Homo sapiens: one gene and its partner. The protein of the gene in region 1 purifies or fractionates together with the protein of each later gene. This does not show direct contact. Each region holds a gene or a part of one and is shown in the gene's direction. Other genes may lie near its edges.

The links. Proteins that work in one complex are often made in the same cells at the same time.
Region 2: the proteins of COLQ (region 1) and PLOD1 purify together in Homo sapiens (co-immunoprecipitation; 3 studies listed by BioGRID and IntAct, with this or other methods). This does not show direct contact.

Annotation. Positions count from the first base shown.
Region 1 is NC_000003.12:15,518,701-15,526,456, reverse strand, and holds the start of COLQ (acetylcholinesterase collagenic tail peptide isoform I precursor), read left to right. Parts: upstream 1-4,750; 5' UTR 4,751-4,831; coding exon 4,832-4,937; intron 4,938-7,756. UniProt on the Homo sapiens protein: Anchors the catalytic subunits of asymmetric AChE to the synaptic basal lamina.
Region 2 is NC_000001.11:11,951,702-11,958,726, forward strand, and holds part of PLOD1 (procollagen-lysine,2-oxoglutarate 5-dioxygenase 1 isoform 2 precursor), read left to right. Parts: intron 1-921; coding exon 922-1,034; intron 1,035-3,128; coding exon 3,129-3,192; intron 3,193-5,215; coding exon 5,216-5,313; intron 5,314-6,140; coding exon 6,141-6,242; intron 6,243-6,814; coding exon 6,815-6,946; intron 6,947-7,025. UniProt on the Homo sapiens protein: Part of a complex composed of PLOD1, P3H3 and P3H4 that catalyzes hydroxylation of lysine residues in collagen alpha chains and is required for normal assembly and cross-linkling of collagen fibrils.

The DNA of each region.
Region 1 (7,756 bases):
GGATCTGTTCTCCAGCCCCATAGTTTTGCCTTTTCCAGAATGTCCTACTAATGGAATTATACAGTATGTAGCCTGTTGTGTCTGGCATCCTTCACTTAGCATAATGCACTTGAGATTCTTCCATGTTACTTAGTTTATTCCATTTTATTGCTGAGTAGTTTTGCATTGTATGTACACATGCAGTTTGTTTATCCATTCACTGGTTGATGGCCATTTGGGTTGTTTCTAGTTTTAGCTATTACAAATGAAGTGGTTATGAACTTTCATGTACAGTCTTTCTGTGGACATGTGTTTCATTTCTCTTGGATAAATACTGAAGAGTAGAATTGTTGGATGTATAATAAGTGTATATTTGACTTTATAAAAAACTGACATTTTTTTCCAAAGTGGTTACACCATTTTGCATTCCCACTAGCAATGTTTGAGAATTCCAGTTGCTTCATATCCTCACCAACACTTGGTATTGTCAGTCTTTTAAATTTTAGCTATTCTAGTAGGTGTGTAGTGGTATCTCACTGTGGTTTTAATTTGCATTTCCCTAATGACTAAAGATGTTGGGTATCTTTACAAATGTTTATTTGTCATTAATGTATCTTCTTTGGTGAAATATATATTCGCATCTTTTGCCTTCCTTCCTTCCCTTCTTCCCTCCTTCCTTCCCTCCCTTTTTTGAGACAGGGTCTCATTCTGTCGCCCAGGCTGGAGTGACGCAGTAATGGCTCACTGCAGCCTTGACCTCCTGGGCTCAGGTGATCCCTTATCTTCACCCTCCCAGGTAGCTAGGACTACAGGCATGCACCACCACACCCAGCTAGTTCTGTTTTTTGTTTTTTGTTTTTTGTTTTTTTTTCATAGATACAGGGTTTTGCCATGTTGTCCAGGCTGTGTCCATTTCTTTATTTCATTTCAGTTTTTTTTTTTTGAAACAGAGTCTTGCTCTGTTGCCCAGGGTGGAGGGCAGTGGTGTGAGCCCAGCTCACTGCAACCTCTGCTTCCCAGGTTCAAGCAATTCTTGTGCCTCAGCCTCCTGAGTACCTGGGATTACTGGTGTGTGCCACCACACCCAGCTAATTTTTGTATTTTGTGTTGAGATGGGGTTTCACCATGTTGGCCAGGCTGGTCTCAAACTCCTGGCCTCAGGTAATCCACCCACCTTGGCTTCCCAGGGTGCTGAGATTACAGGTGTGAGCCATGTCTGGCCTGCCATTTCTTTTAATTAAGTTTTTTATCTTATTATTATTGAGCTGTGAAAGTTTTAATATATTCTAGCTACAAATCATTTATCATATATGTGTTTGGCAAATATTACGTCCTAGTTTTTGGCTTGGCTTTCCAATTTAGTATTCTATTTTGAAGAGCAGAAGCATTAAAGTTTTTATAATGTCCAATTTAACTTTTTTAAATTTAAGATTTGTATTTTGCATCTTATTTAAAAAATCTGTACCTAACCCAGGGTCACTAAGATTTTCTCCTGTTTTCTGCCGTAAGTTTAATATTTTAGCATTTACAATTAGGTCTGTGGTCTATTTTAAAATAATTTGTATGCATGGGGCAAGGTAAGGGTTAATCTTTATTTTTATTTGTTTGTTTTGCATATGGAAGTCAAATTTTTCCAGCACCATTTGTTGCAAAGACTGCCTTATTCTTTCTAGTCACTGCATAACATTTTGAATGGATGTCCCAGGATTTATTCCACCAATGTTTCATTCATGGACAGTTAGGCTGTTTCCAACTTGAGGCAACAATGCACACCCTTGCACCTAAACCACTGGGTAGTGAATGAGTATTTCTGAGAACTTCTGGGTCAGACGGCATGTGCATTTTAAGTTTAATGGGGCCAAAAGATTGTTTTCCAGTGTACAGTCCTGCCTACAAGGTCTGAGAGGGAAGACTCTGACTTTGAATGGCTTTATTGGTGTGAGCTTTTCTCAAATCTCAAATAGTTTCCTTCTGGACAAATCTAATAGTCTATGTTATTAGATTCTGGAAACATCAGAGCCCTTCCAGGAGGATTTGAAGAAAGATGATAATTTCTGTCTTGGTCAGTTAGGGTAATCTTATAAGAAATAGGTTCATAAAATATAAGATACCTAAGGAAATGGAAATTTACTAAAAATTGTTTAATAAGTATTGGGGCCTTATAAATAACTCTGTGTTGGGGCCTCCTCAAAGGGTAGAGGCTCCTGTCGTAACTTTAGATCAGCAGTGACTCATTCTCCAGTGACTTGAATTATAAATTTAGCCTCTCTGTCTGCGGGTCCTAATTCAAGGTGGCCATCCATAGTCCCTCTCACACTCTCACCATACTCACCAAAGCCCTCCCTTGTATCAGGCGCAGGCCACCCAGCTGTATGTGCAGAGGCTCCAAGGGGTGCTGGGGAAATGCAAGTTGTGCAGAAAGCTGGAGCATAAAGTTATGCTACTTTTGTACGTTCTTCTTTTTTCATCCTACCCAGTGGTGTGATTTGATCAAAGTAACTTACATTGTTGAGGATCTGTTAGGTGACAAGGACTGTCCTGGGGGCCTTGAGAGTACATAGAGCTGTGGGATAGTCCCCTATCTTTAGGGATGTTAATGCCAGCTAAATAGCAACACAAGGTGGTGTTCAAAAACAATAGCAGCAGGTGTCACCGGTAGGACGTATTGACAGAATTTGTTCCAAGGGTATGGTCAGTGGTGAATTCTTTGTGCTGAGAGAAGGAAGAAGTCATACTGGCTTTGCAGAGGAGGAATCTGAGCTAGATAGTAAAAATTCATATTCTGACACCAAGTTACTCAAAAGATACCTTCCTCCCAGGTAGACTGTACCTTCTCCAAGCCACTGGAAGCTGGCTGCTGGGGCTCCAGGAGTTAACAAGAGTGAGCCTGAGAATGTCCTGATTGAGTTTGGCCAGCAATCACAGCTCCTTCTTGTAAAAATTTTGGGAGCAGCTAAATGGGGGTACCCTCTCTTTAATCTGTCCTATAAATTTTGAATGTAGTTCAGGTATATTTTTCATGCTTTCAAAAGCTTTCCTTATCAACTCTGTATCAGTTAGCTATTGCTGATGAGCAAGTCATCCTAAAACTTACTGGTTTGAAACAATAGCCGTTTTATTTGCTCATGACTTCGTAATCTGGGCTGGGCAGTTCTTTCGAGGGTCTCACTTGGGGTCACTCCTGTGGCTGGCATCATCTGAGACCAGGACAGGGCTAGATGTTCCAAAATGGCCTCACTCGCCTGTTGATGCTGCATCTGGGATAGTCAGAACAGCTGGAGGCTGGCTGCTTCCCCCTCCATGTGGCCTCTTCAATAGTCCAGACTTTTTAAAGTGGCAGCTGATTTTCAAGAAAAGGCAAAAGCAGGAGCTGCCAGGCCTTTTAAGGCCTAGGCCAGGAGATGGCACAGTGTCCCTTTAGCCACATTCTATTGGTCAAAGTAAGTCACAGAGCCACCTCAGATTTAAGGGAGGGGAACTAGCCCTGCTTTTTGCTGGGAAGAGTGTCATGCACACACTGGGTTGGGAGGACTTTTGGAGGCCATCTTTGCACCCAGGCTACCATGGCTCCCTTGGGTCTCCTTTGTGCTGTTCCTATGTGCAAGTTCTAATCCGTGTAGGATTCATCCCCATTACCTCACTTAACTTTCCAACAAACCTTTAAAGGGAACATTGTCTCCATTGTATGGATGAGAAAACTGAGGCTTAGAGAGGTGAGCTTGTCCACTGCCACTCAGAGCTGAGAGTCAAGCCCAAGTGTGGTGCTACAGCTGTAAAATATCACTTTATACCACGCCCTGACCCAACTCCACCTTCCCCATAATGAGCACAGGGGCAGGATGCCCACCCCAGCATCCAGTAACTAGCAGACTGTTTCTGAGTTAACTCCTATGAGGCATGTAATATGTAAATTAAAGCAAAATGAACAACTCTGTGAATTATTATTTTGTTTTAGTCATCTAATCATCTCTATAACAGGCTTTTATAAACTCATAAAAGGTATTAAGAATGTGATAATTTTTATTTGAATAATTTTGTCTAGCCAAAGATTAAGTTAGTGATGTTATTTTTCTGAATATAGTTTGATAAAAATCATTCACTTTTCTATACTTTTACTGTTTTCATTTATTTTGCCTTGCATTGAATCAAAAGGTTGCAGCTTTTGGAGAGAGAAACACTTTTTCACAGAGAAAGCTGTTTGGAAATATAAACTACTTCCTTCCTCCTTTTTATTGGATGATTAAAGAAAAAAATTAAAAGTTAACTTTACATTTGTTACACAATGGGTAAAAATGTCACAGGCTGACAGTGGAGGGGTTTTTCTCCATGAAATTCAGTTTGAATCAGGAGAGTTGTTTCTGCCCAGTTCCAAGGAGGTAGATGGTGGCACATAACCAATTAGGAATCTCTCTGCCCTTGAGGACTGCCTCCAGTGAACATCTGAGACTTGGCTGCCTTCTCATCACCTCTTCACTAGCCACTTACCTCAGTCTCCAAAAAAGAAAATTTTGACATCTTAATTTTAATGTGGGCATTTGATATGGAGCTTGAGATAAATATAACTCTCTGTAGCATGGAGACAGTTTAATGGGAAATGGTTGGCATTCTTTCTTGGTAAAGGCATGGGAGACAGGAGAGGTGGGGGAGGGAGAGAGAGGGAGGGGGTGAGGAGGAGGGAGAGGGAAAGAGAAAGAGGGAAAGACACACACACACACAGACACACACACACACGCACACACACACACACAAACACACGCGCACGCAAACAGCAGTGAGGAAGAGAAAAGCAGAGATAAGCAAGGCTCCGCAGCAGCCTCCTTTCTAACTTGACCCTCGCCAGACCCTGGCCAGCATGGTTGTCCTGAATCCAATGACTTTGGGAATTTATCTTCAGCTTTTCTTCCTCTCTATCGTGTCTCAGCCGACTTTCATCAACAGCGTTCTTCCAATCTCAGCAGGTAAATGATGGCCACAACTTTCCTCTCTTCCATCTGTCAGGGGACAGGGGGAGGAAGGAAGATTGTTTTGCAATGTGTCCTGATGTTTTTGCCATTCAACTGTTGGTGGAGGGAGGTTGGAAGGAAGACGGCCACCCCAGCAGCTTCCTGTCACCCGAGCTTGTCTCGGAAGCCCCTTCTGTCCTTGTTCCAACCGGCTCCTACCTGGCTGCTCAAAGCAGAGACACTTTGAAAAATGGTTTCTGCCTCCCCTATTCTCCCCATTTGCTGCATGATTTCATCTTGGTCAGGAATTTGGGAGAGCTTAAAAGAGACAGAGGTGTGCAAGTAATAGAGAAGTGAGTCTCAGATGTTTCTATAAATACATCTCTGACCTCTTCGAAGGGGGCTTGCCTCACAGGGGCTGTTGTGGAGTAAACAAACCTCTTTCCAGACCCAGATAGCATCCATGGCCACAATAGTCCCTCGAAGGGAAAATGCAGGTGGCAGGGGCCGGTGGGGTGGGGGGTGAACAGCGGCGGGGCAGTTGCAGCCTCAGGACTAGGTTTTCCCTTTCTCCAGACCTGTCTTCCTGGGTGCGACTTCCCTTCAGCCTCAGACAAGGCAGCTGGAGGTCCTGAGAGAAGTGAGCTTTCCAGGGAGAAGTGGAGGGGGTTCCACAGTGACAGCCAGGTCTGGAGCTGAGTGTGTCTGCCGGGTATGAGGCTGGGAGATTTGGGGAAGGGGCTGTGTCTGCCAGCCTGCAACCTTTTCTGAGGTCAGCAGCCTGTTGCCCTTGTCTTGTCTGACCCAGAGCAGGGGAAGTATTCGGTTACTAGTATGGCCTATTTAAACCTTTCTGAGGAAACTCAAATGTTTCCGGAGGGCTTGAAGGAGGCAGGCAGACCCTCACAGCCCCCCTCAATTCACCTCAGTGACCCCTGACTCTCCCCAGCAAAGTTTTAGTTATGCCTCCAACATGAGTCTCATAAATACTTCAACTGAGACAGAAATTTCACTATCGCTGCCTTTGCTGGAAACACAGGGAGGGCCAGAAATGCCAGGCTCTCAGAGAGGGCACATCTCTGAATCCAGCTCCCAACTGCTGTCCATTGATAAAAACAGCTCATCAGCAAGTTGTGTAGCCAACGTTTGTGGGCCATGAGGGAGTGACTCAGAGACTGGTGTGAGGCTAATTATAAAAGTGTGAGAAACAGAAGGAGGTGGGGGCAGATTTGTGGAGAATTCAGGAGGGTGGGCAGGAAAGGTGAGTGGTGGTGTCACCGTGGGTGTGTGCCCACATGCCCCTGCAAATTCAAGTTAAGAGCATCAAGCTTCTTCTAGGAGTGAGTAGTCATTATTCATTCCCCAGTTCAAGGGAGAAGCTTGAGAGTTAATTTGGCCTAATTTGGTGGTTCTTAATCATGTTTGGGTCATGGATTCCTTTGAGAATCTGCTGAAGGTTAGGACTTAAGGAAACTCAGTTTTCTGGTTCTAGCCCTGCCTCTGATGAGCTCCCTGACTTCTGAGAGACAGTGGCCTTACACTATAAGCACCATGTGGCCAGGGCATGTGTCTCTCTTGTACTTTACTGTTTTCCCAGGGTCAGAACAGTGCCTGGCACATAGTAATCAATAAATATTTGATGAATGAATGAATAAAAGCTTCTCATCTGCAAACTGGGGTTTACCATCATTTTGTATTACTTAATTTAAATAGCACCAAAGTGGTTAAGGAGTTCAGAAAACTAGAGAGAAAAGAACCTCTGGTTTTCTTTTGAACTCTTTGCCTTGGAGAGCACCCTGGCACAACATAGATATCTCTTAGGTAAGCTTTTTGCAGACTGTACCAATCAGGGCAACAGCAGGATAAAGAAGCAACTCAGGTGGTTCAGATGAAAAGATCTGAATGAAGGGATCACTTTGAGAGGTGTGGGCGGGGTTAAGGGAACCAACAAGGAATGCTGAGGCACCTAGAGATTAGCAACTGCAATATGCCTTTACCACCCTGTGCTTGAAAAGGCAAGAGGGGCAAATAGGAAAATGGATCCCAGGCAGATTTGGAGCCTTAGAGAAGGGGCCATTAAGCAAGAGCATTGGTCATGGAAGGCCCTAAAGCAGGGAGAAAGTGAAGGAGAAGTACACCATCTTCTCTCTCCTCCCATCCAAGCACCTTTTGGCAGCGCCTCTCATTGGCCAACCCAACTTGAAGCCAGAGGGCAGAGCCTGGAGGTCAGGGACTGGAACACTGAGGGCAGAGAGCCAAGGGGAGGGTTGGGATGGAGAACAACCAGTGCGCACATCCACAGGCACTTCTGGCTGGGAATGTGGTCATTAGACATTAGGGAAAACAATGGAATAGACCTAGCGGGAATCACTAAGGTAACCAGCTCAGTATCACAAAGATATGTTTTCTCCGGTGGTCACTTGGCTTTGCCCCCCTAATTTAGTCACCATGGCTTTATGATAGCACAGTTCAGAAATAAACTTAAGCTTTAAAAAAATGGAAGCTGTTCCTTGTAATCCTTTGGAAATATTTTCCAACAGTTTGATATAAAATATTCTATATTCAGAAGCTTATAGACTCTTAATTCTTCTGAAGATAGGCTGTGTATACACAGAAAATAAGGGCAACCAGGAAAATCTTTTCATTCTATGCATTATAACTTAGTGAGTGCCTACTGTGTGCCTGGCACTCTAATGTGTGCTTCAAGGGACACGGAGACAAGTAGGATGTGGCCTCTGCTCTGAGGGATTCCATGATCACCTGCTTTTGAAACACAGGTGGCGTGTGGTAAATGCCCCGGAAAGGGGTTGTGATGGAGGAAGAGCTCTCATGGG
Region 2 (7,025 bases), on another chromosome or scaffold:
GAGGTCAGGAGATCGAGACCATCCTGGCTAACACGATGAAACCCCGTCTCCACTAAAAATACAAAAAATTAGCCAGGTGTGGTGGCAGGCGCCTGTAGTCCCAGCTACTCGGGAGGCTGAGGCAGGAGAATGGCATGAACCCGGGAGGCGGAGCTTGCAGTGAGCCGAGATCGTGCCACTGCACTCCAGCCTGGGCGACAGAGCGAGACATTGTCTTAAAAATAAATAAATAAATAAAGATGCAAATTCACACACATCACTTAATGACTTTCCACTGCACGGAGAATAAAATCCACAGGCCTCTTTTCAACCTTAGATGGGGATCTGCCATCTGCCCTCAACAGACACTTTTTTCCACTGGTCCAGAGTAAGCACAGTCCAGATGGCCTTGCCCTGGCCCAGGCCCAGGAGTAGGGATGTCCCATTGCTCTTGTGGTTGCTTGTCACCAGTCTGTACTCTAGCCAGGGGCCCATGTGGGCTTCCCCACTATGCCAGGTCTCAGCCCCCAAGGCACTCTGTGAGCTTGGCCCAGCCTTTCCCTTCTCTGGGCCAGGTTTCCCAGATAACTGTAAAAAGGGACACCAGGCCTGTATCCTCCCAGCCCTGCTCTCCAGGGGCTCCTCGTACAATCCGTTTCTTCACCACCTATATGGTGCCCAGCACTGAACAGTACAGCTTAGTGGGCACCATTGGTCTTATTCTTGGGGTCATTAGGAACTCATTAATAAGTGACATTCACTGGCAGCCCCATTTCCAACCTGCAGCCCCACCTCCTGTCAATTCAGGAGGACTTCTGAGAGGTGACAGGGTTTGTGGGCATATGAGTGGAGGTGGATAAGAGGGAAGGGTGGGAGGAGGCCCCTGACTTAGAGGCTGGAAGCTAAGGGTCCGTCTTGGTGTCCCCACCCACCAACCTTCAGGCTTCATCGGTTATGCCCCCAACCTCAGCAAACTGGTGGCCGAGTGGGAGGGCCAGGACAGCGACAGCGATCAGCTGTTTTACACCAAGATCTTCTTGGACCCGGAGAAGAGGGTAAGAGGCAGTGGGCGGGCCAAGGAGAGGGGGCTGGGGATCCACCGGCCAGGCTGCACGGGAACAGCTCCTCTCAGGCCTGAACCCCTGGGTTGGTGTCTTAGTCTATGCAGGCTGCTCTGACAAACTGCCATAGGCTGGGTGGCTCCCAAACAACGGATGTGGATTTCTCATGGTTCTGGAGGCCGGAAGGGTGAGATCACAGTTGGGTTCTGGTCAGAGCCCTCTAACTGGTACAGACACAGCTGACTTCTCTCTGTGTCCTCAGATGGTGGAAGGGGGTAGGGAGCTCACTGGGGCCTCATTGATAAGGACACTAATCCTATTTTTTTATTTTTGGGATGGAGTCTCACTGTATTGCCCAGGCTAGAGTACAGTGGTGCGATCTCGGCTCACTACAGCCTCTACCTCCCTGGTTCAAGCGATTCTCGAGCCTCAGCGTCTCGAGTAGCGGGGACTACAGGCGTGCACCACCACGTTTGGCTGATTTTTGTATTTTTAGTAGAGACAGGGTTTCACTACGTTCGCCAGGCTGGTCTCGAACTCCTGTCCTCAGGTGATTTACCCGCCTCGGCCTCTCAAAGTGCTGGGATTACAGTCGTGAGCCACCGTGCCCGGCTGTCGGGTCTTAAAGAGGCAGCATTGTTCATTGGTTCAGAATAAGGACTTCAGGGCCAGGCTGCCTGGGTTCCAATCCCAGCTCACCATTTACTAGCTGTGTGACATTGGGCAACTTCTCTGTCCCTTGTTTTTTCCGTTATGAAATGCAATAATGGGCCAGACCCAGTGGCTCATGCCTGTAATCCCAGCACTTTGGAGGCCAAAGCGGGTGGATCACCTGAGGTCAGGAGTTTGAGACCAGCCTGGCCAACATGATGAAACCCTGTCTCTACTAAAAATATAAAGATTAGCCGTGCGTGGTGGTGGGTGCCTGTAATCCCAGCTACTCAGGAGGCTGAGGCAGGAGAATTGCTTGGACCTGGGAGGCGGAGGTTGCAGTGAGCCGAGATTGTGCCATTGCACTGCAGCCTGGGTGACAAGAGCCAGACTCCATCTCAAAAAAAAAAGCAATAATGATAATACTTTCTCACAGAGATGTTGTCAGGATTAAATTGATTAATATATGTAGAATAGTTTATTTATTTATTTGAGACAGGGTCTCACTGTCACCCAGGCTGATGCGCAGTGGCAGAAACATAGCTCACTGCAGCCTCAGCCTCCCGGACTCAAGCGATCCTCCCACCTCAGCCTCCTGAGTAGCTGGGACTATAGGCCTGCGTCACCATGTCTGGCTAATTTTAAGATTTTTTTATAGAGATGAAGTTTTGCTATGTTGCCCAAGCTGGTCTCAAACTCCTGGGCTCAAGTGATCCTTCTGCCTCAGCCTCCCAAAGTGCTGGAATGACAGGAGTGAGCCACCGCACCCGACTCGTGTAGAATATTTGGAGTAGCGGCCAGGTGCGGTGGCTCACACCTGTCATCCCAGCACTTTGGGAGGCGGGGGGCGGGGGCGGATCACCTGAGGTCAGGAGTTCGAGACCAGCCTGCTCAATGTGGTGAAATCCCATCTCTAGCAAAAAAAAAAAAAAAAAAAAAAAAAATTAGCTGGGTATGGTGGCACATGCCCGTAGTCCCAGCTACTCAGGAGTCTGAGGCAGGAGAATCGCTTGAACCCAGGAGGCGGAGGTTGCAGTGAGTCGAGGTCGTGCCATTGCACTCCAGCCTGGGTGACAAGAGCGAAACTCTTTCTCAAAAAAAAGAATATTTGGAGTAGCTATGTGCGTGTAGTGGAGTGCTTGGCAGGTGCTGGTTACTCTTAACGGCCGTCATTGTTGTAGGTGAGCCGGCTGCATTCTTAGATTCCTTCCAGTTCAGAGTCCCTGGTTTTCTGTGAGTAGAGCCACTAGACTGTAGACCCCAGGAGCTTGGCTGCTGGCCTTCTCTGGGCACCTAGCTGCCCTGATGTGACGTGGCAGAGTCGGTGTGGGGAATGAGGGCTGAACTTGGGGACAGATTCCCCACACTGGGTGAGATGTAGCCCCAGCCTCCCCCAGGGCCTGTCCCTGCTGCAGTCTGGTACCTTCTTTCCTGCAGGAGCAGATCAATATCACCCTGGACCACCGCTGCCGTATCTTCCAGAACCTGGATGGAGCCTTGGGTGAGCAGCCCCCACGGGGAGGGGTGGATCCTCAGAGGGGTGATAGGAAGAATTCCAGGCAGGGCCCGAGCCCAGGGAGGAGAAATGGGCTGCTTCTTTCTGGCCATTGTGCTGAGAGGTCACTGGCCTCATCCCCAGGTCCCCAGGGGCCACTTGGATATCCTGGCGCAGAGCCATGTCTCTCTTGGGGGCGGGGGACAAGTGAGCATTCAGCCTGGGAGGAGTTGGGGGATGCGCACAGCAGGTGCTGGACCCCCTGCCCTGCATACCAGGTCCTTACAGGTGGGCCCTCTTTCCCCACTTTCCCGGCCCTCCCACCTTCCAGGTGAAGGAGTCCTGGGCTAGGGGCAGGAACTCAGCTGGTGGGACAGGCAGCTTGGGAAGCAAAAGGCTACTTGACCCTTGATGCCGCAAACATCCCTGGGCCTGGCCTCATGTCTGTGGCTGGTGATGACATTGCTTTGCCGCAGGTCTTCCTGTCTTCCTGAGTGACCTCAGGCAAGTCACACCTCCTCCCCACAGGGGACTCAGTTTTCTTATCTTTACAAAAGGGAAGTGAACCGGATCCACTGATTGCTGATTTTGTGGATAAATGGGCCCTTTTGAGAATCTGATGAAAGCTACGGCTCTGCTCCCAGAGAAACGCAGAAAATGCCCTTTGCCTGTGGTTTCTGGGGGTTAAGAAGCACTGAGTTCAGATCCACGCAGGTCAGGAGCTATCTGTTTTCCTTTTTTTTTCTTCTTTTTTAAGATGGAGTCTTGCTCCATCGCCCAGGCTGGAATGCAGTGGCGAATTCTCGACTCACTGCAACCTCCGCCTCCCAGGTTCAAGTGATTCTCCTGCCTCAGCCTCCCAAGTAGCTGGGATTACAGGCGCACACCACCATGCCCGGCTAATTTTTGTATTTTTTTAGTAGAGATGGGGTTTCACCATGTTGGCCAGGCTGGTCTCGAACTCCTGACCTCAGGTGATCCACCTGCCTTGGCCTCCCAAAGTGCTGAGATTACAGACGTGAGCCATCGTGCCCAGCCCTATTTTAATTTTTAAAATAGAGACAGGGTCTCACTATGTTGCGCAGGCTTGTCTCAAACTCCTGGGCTCAAGTGATCCTCCCACCTTGGCCTCCCAAAGTGCTGGGATTACAGGTGTGCGCCAGCGTGCCCAGCTGAAATACCCATTTTCCTATGTGCAGACTAATAGGGTCAAACATGGGTATTGGGGGCCAGGCACTGTAATCCCAGCACTTTGGGAGGCCAAGGCGGGTGGATCACCAGAGGTCATGAGTTCAAGACCAGCCTGACCAACATGGTGAAACCCCGTCTCTACTAAAAATACAAAAATTAGCTGGGTGTGGTGGCATGTGCCTGTAATCCCAGCTACTCAGGAGGCTGAGGCAGGAAAATCACTTGAACCTGGGAGGCGGAGGTTGCAGTGAGCCGAGATCATGCCACTACACTCCACACTGGGCAATAGAATGAGACTCCATTTCTAAAAAACAAAAAACAAAAACACACACAAAAAACATGAGTATTGGAACCCTGCTGCAGGGGCTCCCTCCACTGGGACAAGATCTGTCCTGATCATGCCCAGGCCTCCCCTGCATGTGGCTCTGGCATTTTCTCAGTGCTGCTCTGCCTACTCAGAGAAGGCGCGTCCCAGACCCTTTCTCTTGGGGCTTCTCTGAGGTGCCTGGAGCTGGGATGTTCCAGGTCTTCGTTCTTCTCCCAGCCCCTGCTTCTGACTGTAAGTAACCACAACAAGTACAGGGGTTGCCGTGGATTCTGTGCTCATGATGGGCCAGGCTTGGTGCCCCACGCTTGTTCAACACAAATCCTCCCCCTCACCCCATGAAGAAGGGATTATTCCTATTTTATAGATGAGGAAACTGAGGCTTAGAGAGAAGTGACTTGCCCGAGGACATAATCTACTCACTGCACAGCTGGGATTTGAGCCCAGCTGGTTGGACCCTGAGCCTGACCTCTGGGTCTGATGCTGGGTGGGACTGTGCTTTCTGACCCCCAGATGAGGTCGTGCTCAAGTTTGAAATGGGCCATGTGAGAGCGAGGAACCTGGCCTATGACACCCTCCCGGTCCTGATCCATGGCAACGGGCCAACCAAGGTAGGGGGTCCCCAGCCCCTGGGGAGTGTGGGAGGGGGCCAGAGCCCTAATTTCATTCTCACTGTGACCCCACAGTGTCTCCCTGGGGCCAGGGCCACCTTCCTGGGGCCTGCTATGAACTCACTGCCTCTGTCCTCACATCTGAGCTCAGCGTGATGCCTTCTTTTCCTGCTGTGGTGGTCAGTGGTACTCTGTCTGTTCTTGCTGGTCACAGGACACGTAGGAGGCTGCCATCCCCTTCCAGGCCTAGGCTGGGCTACCAGAGCCATCTGCACTGTCACCCCAGGGCAGAGTCACTTATTCACTCAGTAAACCTTTATTTCATGTTTGCACCAGACAGTAAGACATAGTCATAAGCAGGACGGATGTCCTGCATTCATGGTGACAGAAGGGACTGGGTGCAGATGCGGCCAGGGACAGAATGGACCTCACTGGTCCCTGGGGAACTGGCTCATAGCTCATAGCATATTTGAGTGTGGTCCTTCACCGCTGGAATGAGGGAGAGGAAGGAGGATGTGATGTGTTTAAAATGCAAATTTGCTGATTTCACCCAGGATCTGTTCAGATGGAATCTCTGAGCGGGGTGGGACCCAGGAATCTGCATTTTACAAGCTCTCGGGAGAAGCACTAGAGTGCCAAGCCCTCCCCTGCCCTCTCTCAGAGCGGCTTGGTGATCTCCTGGGGATGGAGCATTATCTCCAAGACCCTCTTAGGGAGTGGGAGGGGGCTGGATGGTGCTGACCCACTGGGGGCCCAGGGAGATGTGAGTCAGGGCTATGGCAGGTGGGGCTGGCTGGCTTCTCTGTGACCCCACGTCTCCCCGACAGCTGCAGTTGAACTACCTGGGCAACTACATCCCGCGCTTCTGGACCTTCGAAACAGGCTGCACCGTGTGTGACGAAGGCTTGCGCAGCCTCAAGGGCATTGGGGTGAGGCTGCGCCCAGGCCTGTGCCTGAGGGACACGGGGGGCTCAGTCCCCTGAGATGGCGAGATGGGTGATTCTGGAATAGACTCCATTGTCTTTGGTGGAAAGTGAAGGGGTCACCTCCCTGCCTGGGGTTCTATCCCGGTTGCCACCCAAGTGCCTCCTCCTGGAAGCCCTCTCAGATTGCATGTCTCTAGCTTCCCCCGAGATGTCCAGGTTCTGGTTTCTTCTGCCTGGTCCTTCAGGCTCTCCTGCAGCCCCCTCCCCATCCCATGAACCTCATCCTCATTTATGACTCACCTCGAACACCACGCCAGCCACGATCTCCTGACAGCAGGCCCTCAACCGAGTCCTTGTTCCAGGCCTGGGCTCCTGCTGCTCTCTCCCCGGGGCACCCTCCTGCTGCTTCCCTGCCCCCCCGTACCCCCTGACTGGAGTTCCCCGGCCCGGGCACCTTTCTTGGGAAGTCTACATGCTTCTGATTCTGGCTCTGACTCCCTTGGGCCACCCTGGGGTGGAGTGGCAGTGCTGTGACTGGACACTGCTGGACTCTTGTGCCGCCCTCCCTGGTGCAGGATGAAGCTCTGCCCACGGTCCTGGTCGGCGTGTTCATCGAACAGCCCACGCCGTTTGTGTCCCTGTTCTTCCAGCGGCTCCTGCGGCTCCACTACCCCCAGAAACACATGCGACTTTTCATCCACAACCACGTGAGTAACAGGCGCTCTGTGGGGTCGTCATGTGGCTTAGATCCAGGGCCCAGCTTCACAAGGTAGCCCGAGACCTCTG